Homo sapiens: one gene and its partner. The protein of the gene in region 1 purifies or fractionates together with the protein of each later gene. This does not show direct contact. Each region holds a gene or a part of one and is shown in the gene's direction. Other genes may lie near its edges.

Region 1 (7,727 bases):
ATTAAAGGGGTATATTGGGTAACTCAGAATTTCTGGTGCTCCTGGCTATATATACCAAATCCCAGTTCAGGATTCAACAACCCAGATCATGCTGCTGAACTGCACTACCACTGCCAAGTGTGAAATTGAAGCTTGCTCTGCTGGCCTTGTTGCCTGGGAGCTTGATCCTGCTTCTGTTACTCCACACCTGTCTCCCTCCCTGTTCCATTCCTGGCTCCATTTGCAGCCCTCCTTTCAAAGTGTGGGGTGGATACCTTTGTTAGGCAGAGCCTAGCACAAGTGGTCCTCCTTACTGCAAGGGAGTCTGGGAAAGCAAGTATCCAGTGTTTTCAGCTTTTATAGTGGGTGGTGATTTCTGCCAGAAATTGTAACAAGGGGACAAGGGGTGTTTCAGATTTGGGGCAGCCAAAAAGCGAGCAAAATCCATCTTTGAGGTGAGCATTTAGGCCAATAGAAGAAAGTAGATTTCAAGTGTTAGGAACAATAGAAGCCCAGGGTAGAGGTTGAATAGAGTATGGCATTTGAGCCCAGTGGAAACAAGTTTAACTGGATTAAAGGGTGTGCTCTGGGAAAATAGTTTGAGAAAAGTTGAAGGAATAGGATGGGACAAGATTAAAGATTACTTTGAAAGTCAGGCAGAGGAATTTAAATTTCATATGGGAATGTTGGAGCCAGTAAAAGTTTTTGAACAAGAAAGTGTCCTAAAAGGAAATGGTACTTAAGGATTATTAATCTGGCAGCACTTCTAGGGGTATCTAGGCATTTTCTGTCATAATTTAGGTGTGGGGTGATAGATTGGGAGTAGAAATAAAAGACAAAGATTGTATTTAAGAGAAGATTTGAAGGAAAAAAATCAATAGGACTTCTTGAAGAGAAAGAAGTAGAGGCTATTTCTGAAACTGAGCTTGAGTGACTGATCCCACTCTTCATTTAGAGCTAGCAAAGCTGAGGAGGGACCCAGTTTGGAGGAAGCAGAAGAATGAATTTTAGTTTGGGAATTGCTGAGTTTGAGGTGAGAGATATTGAGTAAAAGTGGTCCCTGTGCAGTTAGAGTTGGGGACCAAGAAGTGGAAAGAATTGCACTCAGGCAGAAAGGCTGTGAAGGGAATGGAACAGAGTGTGCCAGAACCCTCAGGGTGTTTCTCAGCTCTTGTTTACGGGCCACCAGGTATACTATCTTGAATTTAATTTTAAGTGATACGTTTGAACCACAACCTCTACCTTTTGTTTCATAAAACGTCAGTTCTCACACCCTAAGACACATTGATGCAAGCTATCGATGCTATTACTATTTTACATGGTCTTCTTCCTGTTATTCTAATATATTTGGAAAGAAAATGATTAATACATGTGAGGCTTTTCTTGGTAATTTTCAATACTTTTGAATGTTTTGAATACAAGGAGAATAATATACTAAAGCTAGAGACCTTAAACAAGACCGAGAAAAGACTGCATATAAAAAGCAAACCTCCAGTTCATTAAAATTGTAAGTTGGAGCTCTTGGCTCCATGGCAGGGAGCCTTGGATCAGTAAGTATAACAGCTCCCTTCCGTATTGTACTTAGAAAAGAATGATCATAAAACCTACTTAGGCCTCACAAGGTCTTTTTGAGCCTTAGCCAATGCATTTAGTCACTGTCAGTAACCACAAGCTTTAGTATAATATTCTGGCTTGCAAAGCAGCCAGGTCTCCAGAGCATGACGATAGGCTCTTCTATACAACTTGAAAGCTGTTGCTGAGGCATACCTTCTTGATATTCCTCTTAGCACTTTTCTCTAGTCTATAGCAAGTCTGTACCTGTAGATGACAGTGGATTGCTCAGATATTATTAAAGAGTATGCAAGTATCTTAACAGGAAACAGCTTACCCTTTGGGTAATGTGTGATACAGTGAAGAAAATCCCTTAAATGGTTGCCCAATATTTATGCTGCTGGCATGTTTGCTGGGATATTTTTTCTCCTCTGAATTAGTATTTTGAGTCCTTGGGCTCTTCAGTTTAATAGATAATGTTTCTATGTTTAAGTGTAGAAGATCCACCATGTTAGCTGAAAAGTTCCAAGGCTTTTCTGTCTCTGTAACATTTCTCTGCCTAAAGAGGTAGCAGGTTGAAAATTTAGGAAATAACTTTGCGTCAAAAAATTCATCAGCCTTTCTAATCAATTCGATTTTAAAGTGAAACAGTGATGAACTTTGCATTTATCAGAATTCATGTTTTTCTCATGGATTTAACAGCCCTTTGCAACTCTGCTTCCTTGGTTACATGATAGAAAGAGTATCTGATCACATCAGAATAAAATCGTTTGGGAAGACATCCGTGTGTCATAGATTATGTAGCTTGCAACAGGATTTAAAGCAAAAAGATGGTAGAATATCGGATCTATCATTATTTTTGCAGTGAATGTTTCACCAGCTGGTTTGAGAGAAGTTTTACACCCCTACCAGGCTTCCTCTTACCTCATTTACCGCAAAAACCACAAGTCCTAACAGGCAAACTGTAATTGCCTAAAACAAAACTAGTAAGGTATAAATGCATGTGGAAATGATTATTTGAAGGCAAAAGGCAAATAAATGTCACCAGTCTGAGCCATGACCTAAGCATCCTAGGTCTAGTAACCATTCTTTTGGTAAGGGATAATGCCAACTTTTTTATCAATAGGATTCTGTTAAAAATACAAAGAAAAACAGTCAGCAGGATACTGTATCTATACACATACATATATGTATATACACATATATGTATATATATGTATGTGTATATATAGATATAAAATACTTTTGTTTCATTTTAGAGCTGGTTGAACTTCAGTGGTGGGTAGAGCTTGTTTTTAATTTATATAATTTTTGTAGTACAATTTTAAAATATTATTTTTTTAAATGAATCCAGGAGCTGTGCGGTCTTATGCATTGGAACTTAATTTGACAGATTCAGAAAATGCCACTTGCCTTTATGCAAAATGGCAGATGAATTTCACAGTACGCTATGAAACTACAAATAAAACTTATGTAAGTATATATTTTAATTTTTCTTTGAGTTTTATAGTAGGAATTTAATTGACTTTATCCTTTAGATACACGTATACAAATGAAATTCCACGTTGACTGACTTAATGCTGAAACTCTGGGATTTTTTTTAAGCATACACACTCAGAAGTTATTCTGTTTAGTGTTAGAATGAATATTTCTTCTGATTCATTGGTTCTTGGGAGTTTTTGTAGGACTTGATTAAGGGCAAATGATCTGAAGACGACTATATGGTGTTCAGGTCTAAGTATTTCTGTAAAGTGTTTAAAATGTACTAGCACCAAAGCTTGCCCTTTTAAAAAGCAGCTTCCCATCTGGGCATGGTGGCTCATGCCTGTGATCCCAGCATTTTGGAAGGCCAAAGCAGGAGGATTGCTTGAACCCAGCCCGGGCAACATGGTGAGACCTCATCTCTACAAAAAAACTTTAAAAATTAGCCAGGCATGGTGGCACACACATGTACCTCCAGCCACTCGCTGGGCCGAGGCTGGAGGATTGCTTGAGCTCAGGAGGTTGAGTCTGCAGTGAGCCATGATTGTGCTACTGCACTCCAGCCTGGGCAACAGAGCGAGACTCTATCTCAAAAAAAAAAAAAATCGCTTACTTAGGTTGGTACAAAAGTAATTGCCATTAAAGGAACAAACCACAATTACTTTTGCACCAACCTAAGTAAGCGATTTTTTTTTTTGGCACAAACTGCAATTACTTTTGCACCAACCTAACACTAAAATCTCCCCCTTTTTGACATCTCCTCTTAATTCCTTTGCCTTCTTATTTTCTTTTTGTTAAGGTCCTCACTACTTACAACCTAATTTTTTAAAAAATCAGTTTAAGAACAGCAGCTCAAGCCAGTTTTCCTTTTCTTTTTAGACATACACGAATTTATCCAGAGGAGTGGTATGTAGCAGAAGAATCAGGGACTGGTTTACACAGCAAACCAGGCAAAGGGCAACCTGGCCATGGAGAATGTATGATTTAGGCTGAAGTGGCATGCCCTACATAAATGCTTGGTGTTCCTTGCTGCCTGTTTGTTTCTCACCCCCAAATTTCTATTTCTTTTAGAAAACTGTAACCATTTCAGACCATGGCACTGTGACATATAATGGAAGCATTTGTGGGGATGATCAGAATGGTCCCAAAATAGCAGTGCAGTTCGGACCTGGCTTTTCCTGGATTGCGAATTTTACCAAGGCAGCATCTACTTATTCAATTGACAGCGTCTCATTTTCCTACAACACTGGTGATAACACAACATTTCCTGATGCTGAAGATAAAGGTAACCTTAAGAATGGATTTGTGTTATGTTCTCTTGCTTTTTATTAATGATAAAAATGTAAACAATTTTAAAATTGTTATGAATGTCTGTCTTCCTAACTAGCATGGAAACTTCATGTCTTTATAACCCTCCCACTGACCCCATGCATGGCACATATGACACCATCCAACATACTGATGATATTTGCTGTCATTGCTTGAGTGACTTACTGTATACCAGGTATTATCCTAGTATACAGTAAGTCACCTTACTATATATATCCTAGTATACATATATATGTGTATATATATACATATATATGTATATCCTAGTATATATGTATATATATATATACACATATATCCTAGTATATATATACACACATATCCTAGTATATATGTATATATATATCCTAGTGTGTGTGTATATATATATATATATATCCTAGTGTGTGTGTGTGTGTATATATATATATATATCTCCTAGTATACAGTAACACACCTAGTGTGTTACCTGCAGCATCTCACTTAATTCTTAACAGCAACCCTGGGAAGTAGATGTTGTTTCATTTTTACAGGTAAAGGAAATGAGGCTTGATAAGATTAAATGACTTTTCCAAACATCACACAGTCTGGTAAGTGGGCGAGCTGGTGTTTGAAGCAGTCTATTGACCTGCAGAATTCATATACTTAACTATTATTGATTTCATTCAGTAGTGTGCATGAAACAAAGGTTTGATGAATGAGAAAATGCTTTACTAATAGCTACTTTATTTTCAAGATCGGGGGTTGGGGGGGGTGTCTCACTATGTTGCCTAGGCTGGTTTTGAACTCCTGGATTCAAGCGATCCTCATGCCTCACAGCCTCCTGAATAGCTGGGACTACAGGCATGCACCACTGTGCCTGGCTACTAATAGCTATTTTAAATGTGTAAAAGTTAAGTAACCTGAGACTAGGAGAAATGCCTCTTGTTCAAATCTTTTTATCATTTAGGTTGGATTTTGATTGAAAAGTAAATGATGATTAGTTAAAGGTGTAGTAGTCCCTCATTACACTCAGGGGGTATCATTCTAAGATCTCCCGTAGATGCCTAAAACTGCAGTTACTACTAAACCCTATACAGGAAATGCTATGTTTTTTTTTTTTTTTTGATCTGATAACTGACATGGCTACTAAGTGACTAACGGATGGATAGTGTAGACAACGTTGATATACTGGACAAAGGGATGATTCATGTTCCTGGTTGTGCAGAGCGGGACAGCAAGAGATTTAATCATGCTACTCAGAATGGCGTACATTTTAAAACCTATGAATTGATTACTTTTGGAATTCTCCATTGAATATTTTCAGAGCTCAATTGACCATGGGTAACTGAAACCAGGGAAAGCAAAAACCGTGGATAAGGGGAGACTAAAGTCAACATTTGCTGTTATTTTAAGACAATTTCAGGTCAAAATGAACTTGGGAAGCATTGGCAATTAGGCCATTCTAGTAATTCCCAGAACTGAAATGCGTGTTAAAATATTTTGAAGATATAGAGTGTAGAGATTTTATTTTATTTTATTATTTTGAGCTGGAGTCTCGCTCTGTCGCCCAGGCTGGAGTGCAGTGGCCTGATCTCGGCTTACTGCAACCTCCGCCTCCCAGGTTCAAGCAATTCTCCTGCCTCAGCCTCCTGAGTAACTGAGATTACAGGTGCGTGCCACCACGCCCGGCTAATCTTTGTATTTTTAGTAGAGACAGGGTTTCTCCATGTTGGCCAGGATGGTCTCGAAATCCTGACCTCACGATCCACCCACCTCAGCCTCCCAAAGTGCTGGGATTACAGGCGTGAGCCACCGCACGTGGTCGAGATTTTAATTTTGTTAGGGATATAATTCTCTTCTTTCTCCCCCTGCCCGTTGAGATTGAGTTAATGTGGTATTTGTAGTAGCTTAGCTCTTTGCAGATAGTGTTTCATTCTGACCCCAGAAACAGGTAGATGGGCTTTAGTTGCCTAGACCTGGGGATTAATAACTCATTTGGACTTAAGGATGTCAAAAGATCCTATTCGAAAGAACCAGAAGTAAATAAGCTCACGTAAAATTTGGGAGGTATTGCAGAATGAGACTTGGAAATCAAATCCTAGTGTTCTTTTTACTAATCTCTTAGTTTGAGAGTATAACTAAAGCAAATGGTTATTGGCTATCTTATCAGTTTATCTTTGTGCCCTGTTTTGCCTTTCAGAGCTAGTATAAGATATGCCCCTCACTTTCAAGTAGCCTAAGAATGAGCTGGGGAGACAAAGCTAAATGCTATTCCCGAGTTACATGGAAAAATTGGAAAACATTGAGCTCAGTCTGATTTTGTTGTTGTTGTTTGCGTTTTTGTTTGAGGGAGTAGAGGGTTCATAAATCTCTTCTGACAGTGTGAGGAAAACTTTAGACTCCCTCTCAAAAAAGAAAAAGTACACAGTAAACTTTGCATATGGAACATAGTCCCTGAACCCATATGTAGATCCCTGTGGTTAAGAGTGCCTGATTTAGGTCGAGAATGGTAGCTCATGCCTGTAATCCCAGCACTTTGGGTGGCCGAGGCAGGCTGATCACTTGAGCCAGGGAGTTCAAGACTAGCCTGGGCAACATATTAAGACTTTGTCTCTACAAAAAAAAAAAAAAAAAAAAAGCCAGGTGTGGTGGCGTGTGCCTGTGGTCCCAGCTACCTGGGTGGCTAGGGTGGAGGATCGCTTGAGCCCAGGAGGTTGAGGCTCCAGTGAGCTGTGATCCCACCACTACACTCAGCCTGGGTGACAGAGAGAGAGAGACCCTGTCTCAAAAAAAAAAGAAAAGAAAAAGAAAAGACTGGCTGATTTAAAAGTGTTCCCGTGTTCCCACAAGTGGTCCTGATTAGGAGGAGTGATAAAGGAAGGCTCAGTGTGTGTTAGAGTAGTGAGAAAGCTTGGTAGAGAAGTAGGACCTGAGCTGAAACTCAGCTAATGGTAGAATTTGAGTAAGCGGAGGATTTTGAGCAGGATGTTTCCAGCAGGGGGAAGCATAGCATATGCGGCAGTAATTGGAGAGCTGCCTGATTAAATCAGGCTGTGTGTGTAGCAGAAGGAAAATAAAGTTGGCTAAATGAAGTGGGCCTAAATTATAGGGGGCCTTGGAAGCCAAGGAAAGACATTTAGCTTGATGGGGCAGGCACTGGGGAATCATTTTAGGTTTTTAAAGCAGGAGAATGATATAACAAAAGCAGAGACAGTAGCTTATAAAGAATATTCTGCAGGATTAGTTGAGAAGTGAGGAGGCTACAAGCAGAGATGCTGGCTTAAGAAGCTGTTATAGTAATCAAGGGCTGATGTAATAAATGCCTGGACTACAGGGGCATCAGTTGTTAGCAGTTATTAGGAGGAGGTGTTTAATCTGACATATTTGGATAGAAAAACTATGGACCCTGAAATGTTAACACTTCT
Region 2 (8,031 bases), on another chromosome or scaffold:
TCATAGTGAATAAAGGACAGATTTTGATGTTGAAAAAAAATCAATGAGATATTATTAACATTTTAATATCTGTGATCAGGAATGAGCACGGTGCCTGGAACAATGCTGATGGTGACAACACAGGAAAGATGGGGCTTCAGTCCAGCATCTTCTAATGGTGAACTGTTTGGTAGCATAGAGGTGGAAAGGTCATGGCTGACACTCCTATAACAAAAGCCAGATTAACAAGAGAAAAGCATAACAGATTTATTTATTTATTTATTTAAGAGGGAGTCTCGCTCTGTCACCCAGGCTGGAGTGCAGTGGCGCGATCTCGGCTCACTGCAACCTCTGCCTCCCGGGTTCAAGCAATTCTCCTGCCTCAGCCTCCTGAGTAGCTGGGATTACAGGTGATCTAATGACAATAGACTGAGTAGGGATAAGAATTTACAAGCATCTACTTTAATGCTTAGTACCAGGGTCAGCAAGGCCTGTTTGTTCAAAAGTCATAGAGAAACTTGGCTTTTGAGGCCTGCCAATGTGTCCTTCACTTCAAGTACTCAGCATGCAAAAGCACTATACTTGTGATATTATCCTCTTCTTTTTTTTTGTTGTTGTTGTTGAGACAGGGTCTTGCTCTGTCACACAGGCTGGAGTGCACTGGCATGATCTCGGCTCACTGCAACCTCTGCCTCCCAGGTTCAAGAAATTCTTGTGCCTCAGCCTCCTGAGTGGCTGAAACTACAGGCACGCACCACCACACCTGGTTAATTTTTGTATTTTTGATAGAGACGGGGTTTCACCATTTTGGCCAGGCTAGTTGCATTTTTAAACTTTTAAATCTGAAAAGTGTCTTGCTCTGTTGCCCAGGCTGGAGTGCAGTGGTGCAATCTCCGCTTCTGGGTTCAAACCATTCTCCTGCCTCAGCCTCCTGAGTAGCTGGGATTACAGGCGCATGCCACCATGCCTGGCTAATTTTTGTATTTTTAGTAGAAATGGGGTTTCGTCTGTTGGCCAGGCTGGTCTTGAAGTCTTAATGTCAGGTGATTCGCCCGCCTTGGCCCCCCAAAGTGCTGGGATTACAGGTGTGAGCCACTGCGCCTAGCCGATATTATCTTCTGAGCCCCAACACTAGGAAAACAGCTTCTCTCCTCCTCTCCTTACTCCTCATAAGTAAATAAACGCAAGAATCTTCACCAAAAGATCTTTAGTCATACAAAAATGAAGTGTCAGATACTTTTTAAATATAACTTATTTACAGGGCTATGCTTATATAAATTGCTTTAACAGTCATTAGAGCATTATATGGGCTGAGAACATATTTTTAATATATTATTAAAACAATGGGTCTGGCATGGTGGCTCTTGCCTGTAATCCCAGCACTTTGGGAAGCCGAGGCAGAAGAATCACTTGAGACCAGGAGTTCAAGACCAGCCTATAGTGAGACTCTGTCTTTACAAACAAAAAACAAACAAAAATGATTATGTATGTTAATAATGCCTTAATAAATCTGATTTAGACAAAAAATGACTAACATTTGCTTAGTGCTTTGTAGAGACAACATTGTATAAAGAGCATTACATGCATTATTTTATTTAATAGAAAATCTCTGGCTGGGCACAGTGGCTCACGCCTGTAATCCCAGCACTTTGGGAGGCTGAGGTGGGCAGATCACTTGAGGTCAGGAGTTCAAGACCAGCCTGGCCAACATGGTGAAACGCTGTCTCTACTAAAAATGCAAAAATTAGCCAGGCATGGTGGCTGACGCCTGTAATCTCAGCTACTTGGGAGGCTGAGGCAGGAGAATGACTTGAATCTGGGAGGCAGAGGTTGCACTGAGCCAAGATCACGCCATTGCACACCAGCCTGAGCGACAAGAGTGAAACTCTATCTCAAAACAAAACAAAACAAAACAAAAGGAAAGAAAATTTCTGTAAAAGGGAAACTAAAACTTCCCCACCTCAGCCTCCAAAGTAGCTGCTACTACAGGTGCACGTCACCACACCTAGCTAATGTTCTAATCTTTTGTAGAGACAGAGACTCACCATGTTGCCCAGGCTAGTCCCGTACTCCAGGCACCAAACAATCCTCCTGCCTTGGTGTCTCAACATGCTAGGGGCCATAGGCATGAGCCACCTTGCCCAGTCAGCTCCTAAGAACTTAAGCTAAGTGCCCAATATCACATGCTTGGTAAGATGCAGAACTCAAACCTCCATGACTAATTCTGGAGCCCTGGTCTTAACCAGTGTGCTGTCCCTGTGAAAGTACATGTCTTGGCTAGGTGCAGTGGCTCACACCTGTAATCCCTGTACTTTGGGAGACTGAGGCGGGAGGGTGGCTTGAGACCAGGAGTTTTGAGACCAGCGTGGGCAACATAACAAAGTCCCATCTTCACAAAAAGAAAAATCTTAAAAATAAGCCTGGTATGGATGTGTGAACATATAGTCCCAGATGCTTGGGAGGCTGAAGAGGGAGGATTGTTTGAGCCCAGGAGGTTGAGGCTGCAGTGAGCTATGATAGCGCCCCTGTGCTCCAGCCTGGTTAACAGAGTGAGATCCTGTGTCGAAAACAACAACAGAAAAGCATGTCTTGACATAATAATGAAATGAAATGTGTGAACCTTGATTGGATTCTGGTTACTGAAAAAGAAAAAACAGCAGCTGGGCCAGGCACAGTGGTGTATGCCTGTTATCCAAGCTACTTGGGAGGCTGAGGTGGGAGGATTGCTTGAACTCAGGAGTGTGAATCCAGCCTGGGCAACATAGCAAGACTCCATCTCAAAAACAAAACAAAACAAAATAAAACAAAAAAAGCAGCTAAAAAAGACATTTTGGAAACAACTTAGAAAATTTTTGCCATAGATTGGTTATTAGTAAACATGGAATTACTATTAGTTGTGTGTAATATTGATATTGTGGTTATGAAAGAAAATATAAAATATCCTTATTTTAGGCAACAAAGTATCTAGGAATGAAGCTTCATATTGTCTTCAATTTACTTTCAAGTAGTTCAGTTAAAAAATGGCCAGGCACGGTGGCTCACACCTGTAATCCCAGCACTTTGGGAGGCCAAGGCAGGCGGATCACAAGGTCAGGAGATCGAGACCATCCTGGCTAACACAGTGAAACCCCGTCTCTACTAAAAATACAAAAATTAGCTGGGTGTGGTGGCGGGCGCCTGTAGTCCCAGACCCTGGGGAGCCTGAGGCAGGAGAATGGCGTGAACCCGGGACGCGGAGCTTGCAGTGAGCCGAGATCGCGCCACTGCACTCCATCCAGCCTGGCGACAGAGCGGGACTCCATCTCAAAAAAAAAAAAAAAAAAAAAAGTATGTGAACACACACACCCACACACAGAGCAACCAAGACAAAAAATGAACAACTAATGAATCAAGTGTGAGGGGTACATGGATGTTCATTGTATTAATCTTTCAACATTTCTGTAGGCTTGAAAATTTTCAAAATAAAATGCAGAGAAGAAAATTTGCACGTCTAGAAAAGGCTTGTGATAAATAATTCATAGAATCTCAGGATTATGAGACCAGCCTGGGCAACATAGTGAGACCTTGTCTCTACGAGAAAAAAAAGAAAAAGAAAAAAGAAGATCACGTGGAGTCTTACACCATCTCTTCCTTCACTAACATTTGCGTAGTTTTATCTCACACATCCTAAACTGGATCACACTATACTCAATGTACAAATAAGCATTAGAATGTATGAAAGTGGGCAAGACGCGGTGGCTAAACTTGTAATCCCAGCACTTTGGGAGGCCGAGGCGGGCGAGTCACCTGACCTCAGGAGTTCCAGACCAGCCTGACCAACATGGCTAAACCCTGTCTCTACTAAAATACAAAAATAGCCAGGCTTGGTGGCACGCGCCTGTAATCCTAGCTACTCAGGGGGCTGAGGCAGGAGAATGGCTTGAACCTGGGAGCCGAGATTGCACCACTGCATTCCAGCCTGGGCGACAGAGCGAGACTCCGTCTCCGCCGCCCCACCAAAAAAATGTATGAGTGTATATATTCTAACTGATATCAAAGTTCTCTCCGGGAGCTGGTAACAGAAAATTTCTTTCCTTGTTTGCTTACATTTTTACAATCATGAGCTTTTTAGAAAATGTCATTGAAGTTTTTTCTCTTTTTGAAATTCAATTTTAAAAGAAACAAGGGCCCAGTGGCTCACGCCTGTAATCTCAGTACTTTGAGAGGCTGAGGTGGGAGAACTGGCCAGGAGGCCAAGAATTCGAGGCTGCAGTGAGCCGAGGTCGTGCTAGGGCACTCCAGCGTGGGCGACAGAGCGAGACTCTGTCTTAATAAACGAACGCCGTAAGCATTCCGAACTGCTTTGTTTCCCATTGGAGAAATCTGTAAATATGTCATGGAAATTGGAATCTTTATTCTGCTCCTGTCCCTCTGCTGGCGGAGTAGGATTTTACCGCTGGTTCTACCTAGGCGTAGAGCTGTGTCTGCAAACAACCAGGCAAGACCGAAAAAAGTTAATGTTCTTAAAATATGCAAGTGGAGCCCGAAAATAGTTAAATTCTTGGACTAGGAAGGCATCCTTAAATGCTCAAGTCTCTGGGTAAGAGCGCACCGAGGGGCTGCGGCCAGAAGCCCCAGGAACCGAGGTGGTTCAGGCGGTAGCCACCGCCCACAGTCCAGGTCTTCTGGGCCGGCACACCCCTCCCACCATCTCAGCCAATCGGAGCTAAGGGGGCGGGGATCGGGCCAGCCGGAGGCGGGGCGGACGCAGGAGGGGGTGTGTCTGGGGAGGGGCCTGGCAGGTCCCAGAAGGTGGCGAGTTTCGCGGCCAGAGGCTTACAGGTCCAGGTGGAGAGGCCGGGCTGGCCAGGGCTTCGGCCTCCGGCGTCGGGAAATGGCGGCGGGGGGCAGGATGGAGGACGTGAGTGCACGGAGGCGGCGGGCGGTTGGCCCCGGAATCCGCTTTTTCTTGTGCCGGGGCGCACGGGGCGGAGACTCAGAGAGGGAAGCCACCCTTGGCGACTGCGGCCGCGGCCGAAGGGGGCGCCGCCTGTGCCCGGGGAGGCCTGGGCGCGGGGCTTTGGGAGGGCTCCAGGCGGCTGTGGGATCCGCGACACGTTGGCTCCGGGCTAATTTTCCCAGTGGAGGCTGGGGTGGGCTCCTGGGCGGTGGGCGCGCGGCCCCCGGGGGTCCCAGGCTGGCGCCCAGCCCACGTGCGGGGTACGTCTTTGATCCCGGAACTGGCAGCTTCACGTGATGCGCGCCTGGCCTGACAGCCCTTCCTCCCCGCGAGTCTCCGGGAGCCGGGCCGATGGGTTCCGCTCGGACGTCCCAGGGGCACAGGGGGCGAATCTCCCTTCCTGGTGAGGTCCCTTGCCTTGGCTCTAGAGGCTGTGGACTTGGAGTGACAACGACGCTCGGGCCGGGCGCCAGCGTCCCGCAGACCTGTCGCTATCATGGCCTGGAAACCCACACGAGAGAAAAAGTGTCATGTGTTGTTTTGAATCTAGCATGGTAGGAATACAAAGGTTTTTAAATCTTTGATAGATTCAAACCAGATTACCAAAACAAAAACAAAAACAAAAAAACAAAAAACCAGTGGCCTAGTTTACAGCGTGTATAGTACAGAATGGTAGCATAATTACAAAAATCTTATTTCTTTGCTTCAGTATCGTAAGGTGTTTTTAGGAGAAACATGTATGTATGCTGAGAGTTAACTGGATTTTCCACTGGCAAGTAATAAAATTTTTGCTCTTGAGAAATGCAAAGTTGACAGTTACTGTAAAGCACTAATTTGGGTTAATAAATTAGTAGGAATATTACTGTGATCCTATCACTGAATGAACTGCATCAGGAAAAGGAAGAGAAACATGAAACAGTTCCAGCATTACGGTAGCTTAGATTCTTGTGCAGTAACCAGTTAAATAATCTTGATGAAATAAAGACCAAACAATTTCTAATGAAACTAAAATTTTCTATTTTTTCCAGTTGAGAAAATGGAAAATTAACTGTAAGACCTGTAAGTAGATTTGAGACTCATATATATTTAAAGCAAAATTCATTGTTTCTGAGTTTTTAAGGCTGAGCTTCATGAGCTGACAATGTACAGAAAAAACCGAATATGTAAGAGGAAAATGAGAGTGTCTTAGAAAAACACATGCAGTAAGTGCTTCTTGGTTGATGCTAAGCTGCTCTGGCGTTCTTGGATCTGTAGCTTTTAGCTTTAGGATGCATATAGTACTAGAAATCTGCTTCCTCAAACACTGGAGCCTGGGGATGGTCTGGGAGGCTCATGCCTGTAATCCCAGCACTTTGGGAGGCCGAGGCAGGCAGATAACCTGAGGTCAGGAGTTTGAGACCAGCCTGGCCAACATGGCAAAACCCCGTCTCCACTAAAAATACAAAAATTAGCCAGGTGGGGTGGTGGGGGCCTGTAATCCCAGATACTGGGGAGGCAGGAGAATCGCTTGAACCCGGAAGGCAGAGGTTGCAGTGAGCCAAGATCGCATCACTGCACTCCAGCCGGGGCAACAGAGCGACAGAGCGAGACTCTGTCTCAAAAATAAAAATAAATAAAAATTAATTAGAGATTAATGTTTTGCTACCAACCACATATTGGAGTCACTTTAGATCTGAGTAAGTTGCCTGCTTTTGGTATTTTGTAAACATGATTCCTAGCCTTCAAGAAAAAGCTAAAAATTTTGGACCATGCCTTAGTTACAGACACTTAAATGAGTTGAGTCAAAGACTTTGTGTTAGTAGGGATTCATTGTTTGCAGGCAGTGAAACCAACTGTGGCTAATTTAAGAAAAGGATGTATTCGAAAGGCTATAGGGTGAGTATATGCCAAGGCCTCTGAAAGGACCCAAACAAGGGCATCTCAAGGCATTGAAGTGACAGGAGTCCTTTCAGGGTCTACCCTGGAATGAATCTGCCTAAATCATGATCTTTCTTCTTTTTTTGTGATGGAGTTTCACCCTTGTTGCCCAGGTTGGAGTGCAATGGTACGATCTCGGCTCACTGCAACCTCCGCCTCCCGGGTTCAAGTGATTCTTCTGCCTCAGCCTCCCAAATAGCTGGGATTACAGGCATGCACCACCACACCTGGCTAATTTTGTATTTTTAGTAGAGACGGGATTTCTCCATTTTGGTCAGGCTGGTCTCAGGTGATCCATCTGCCTTGGCCTCCCAAAGTGTTGGGATTACAGGCGTGAGCCACCGTGCCCGGCCTCATGATCTTTCTTTTACTGCTCATGGAAAGAGTTGGATTCACCCAACTGTTTTTTGTTCCATGACCACTCCTAGAGCAGAGGAGGAGGAAGGGTATTGAAGGATGGTTCCACTAAGACTTAATGCAGAAGTAGACAGTGGGTCCTCAAAGGAAATAGAGTTATTGTCACAGAAGAGAGAAGAGATACCATGTGGGCAAAAACAACAGACATCTTCTACAGGTGGTAATGTAGTTAATAATGGAAATGAAAAAATCATTTGGATTCAGGAGTCCTCTTCCCCTCACCCTTCACTTGCAGATGGTGAGTTAATAGAATGACTGGGTGCTGTTTGTATGGTTACACTGCATATTTCCTATAGGATTCAATGGAAAGTAAATACTCCTGAGTGACATAGAGAAGAACCATATTATAGTCCCCAACTCCTTCAGTGTAGTTAGGAAAAACAAAAGATACACCCATGAAAAGGAAAACAATACAAGGCAGCATAAGAAATATTCCAAATGAATATTATGGGCAATAAGTTTTATAGGATTTTAAAGCAGAAGGAAAACACTTAACAAGGCCAGTTTTATAGAGAACATAAACTTGGTTAGGACCTTGAAAGATGCATAGAATTCTGAAAAAGGTAAGGGAGGATATTTGTAGGGCTCTATAGAAAGCTCATTTAGGCGAGAGAAGAAGGTGCATGAAAGTGACATATTAGGAGATAAAGTAGATTATTGTCTTATAGTGAAGTTTTCAATGCTAGCTTTGTTTAAATGTCCCAGGTCTGGCCAGGTGCGGTGGCTCACGCCTGTAATCCCAGCACTTTGGGAGGCTGAGGCGGGTGGATCACCTGAGG

What was found. Proteins that work in one complex are often made in the same cells at the same time.
Region 2: the proteins of LAMP2 (region 1) and TMEM192 purify together in Homo sapiens (affinity purification with western blotting; 5 studies listed by BioGRID and IntAct, with this or other methods). This does not show direct contact.

The regions. Positions count from the first base shown.
Region 1 is NC_000023.11:120,451,927-120,459,653, reverse strand, and holds part of LAMP2 (lysosome-associated membrane glycoprotein 2 isoform A precursor), read left to right. Parts: intron 1-2,884; coding exon 2,885-3,003; intron 3,004-4,083; coding exon 4,084-4,297; intron 4,298-7,727. UniProt on the Homo sapiens protein: Lysosomal membrane glycoprotein which plays an important role in lysosome biogenesis, lysosomal pH regulation and autophagy.
Region 2 is NC_000004.12:165,109,595-165,117,625, reverse strand, and holds the start of TMEM192 (transmembrane protein 192), read left to right. Parts: upstream 1-4,765; 5' UTR 4,766-4,852; coding exon 4,853-4,879; intron 4,880-8,031.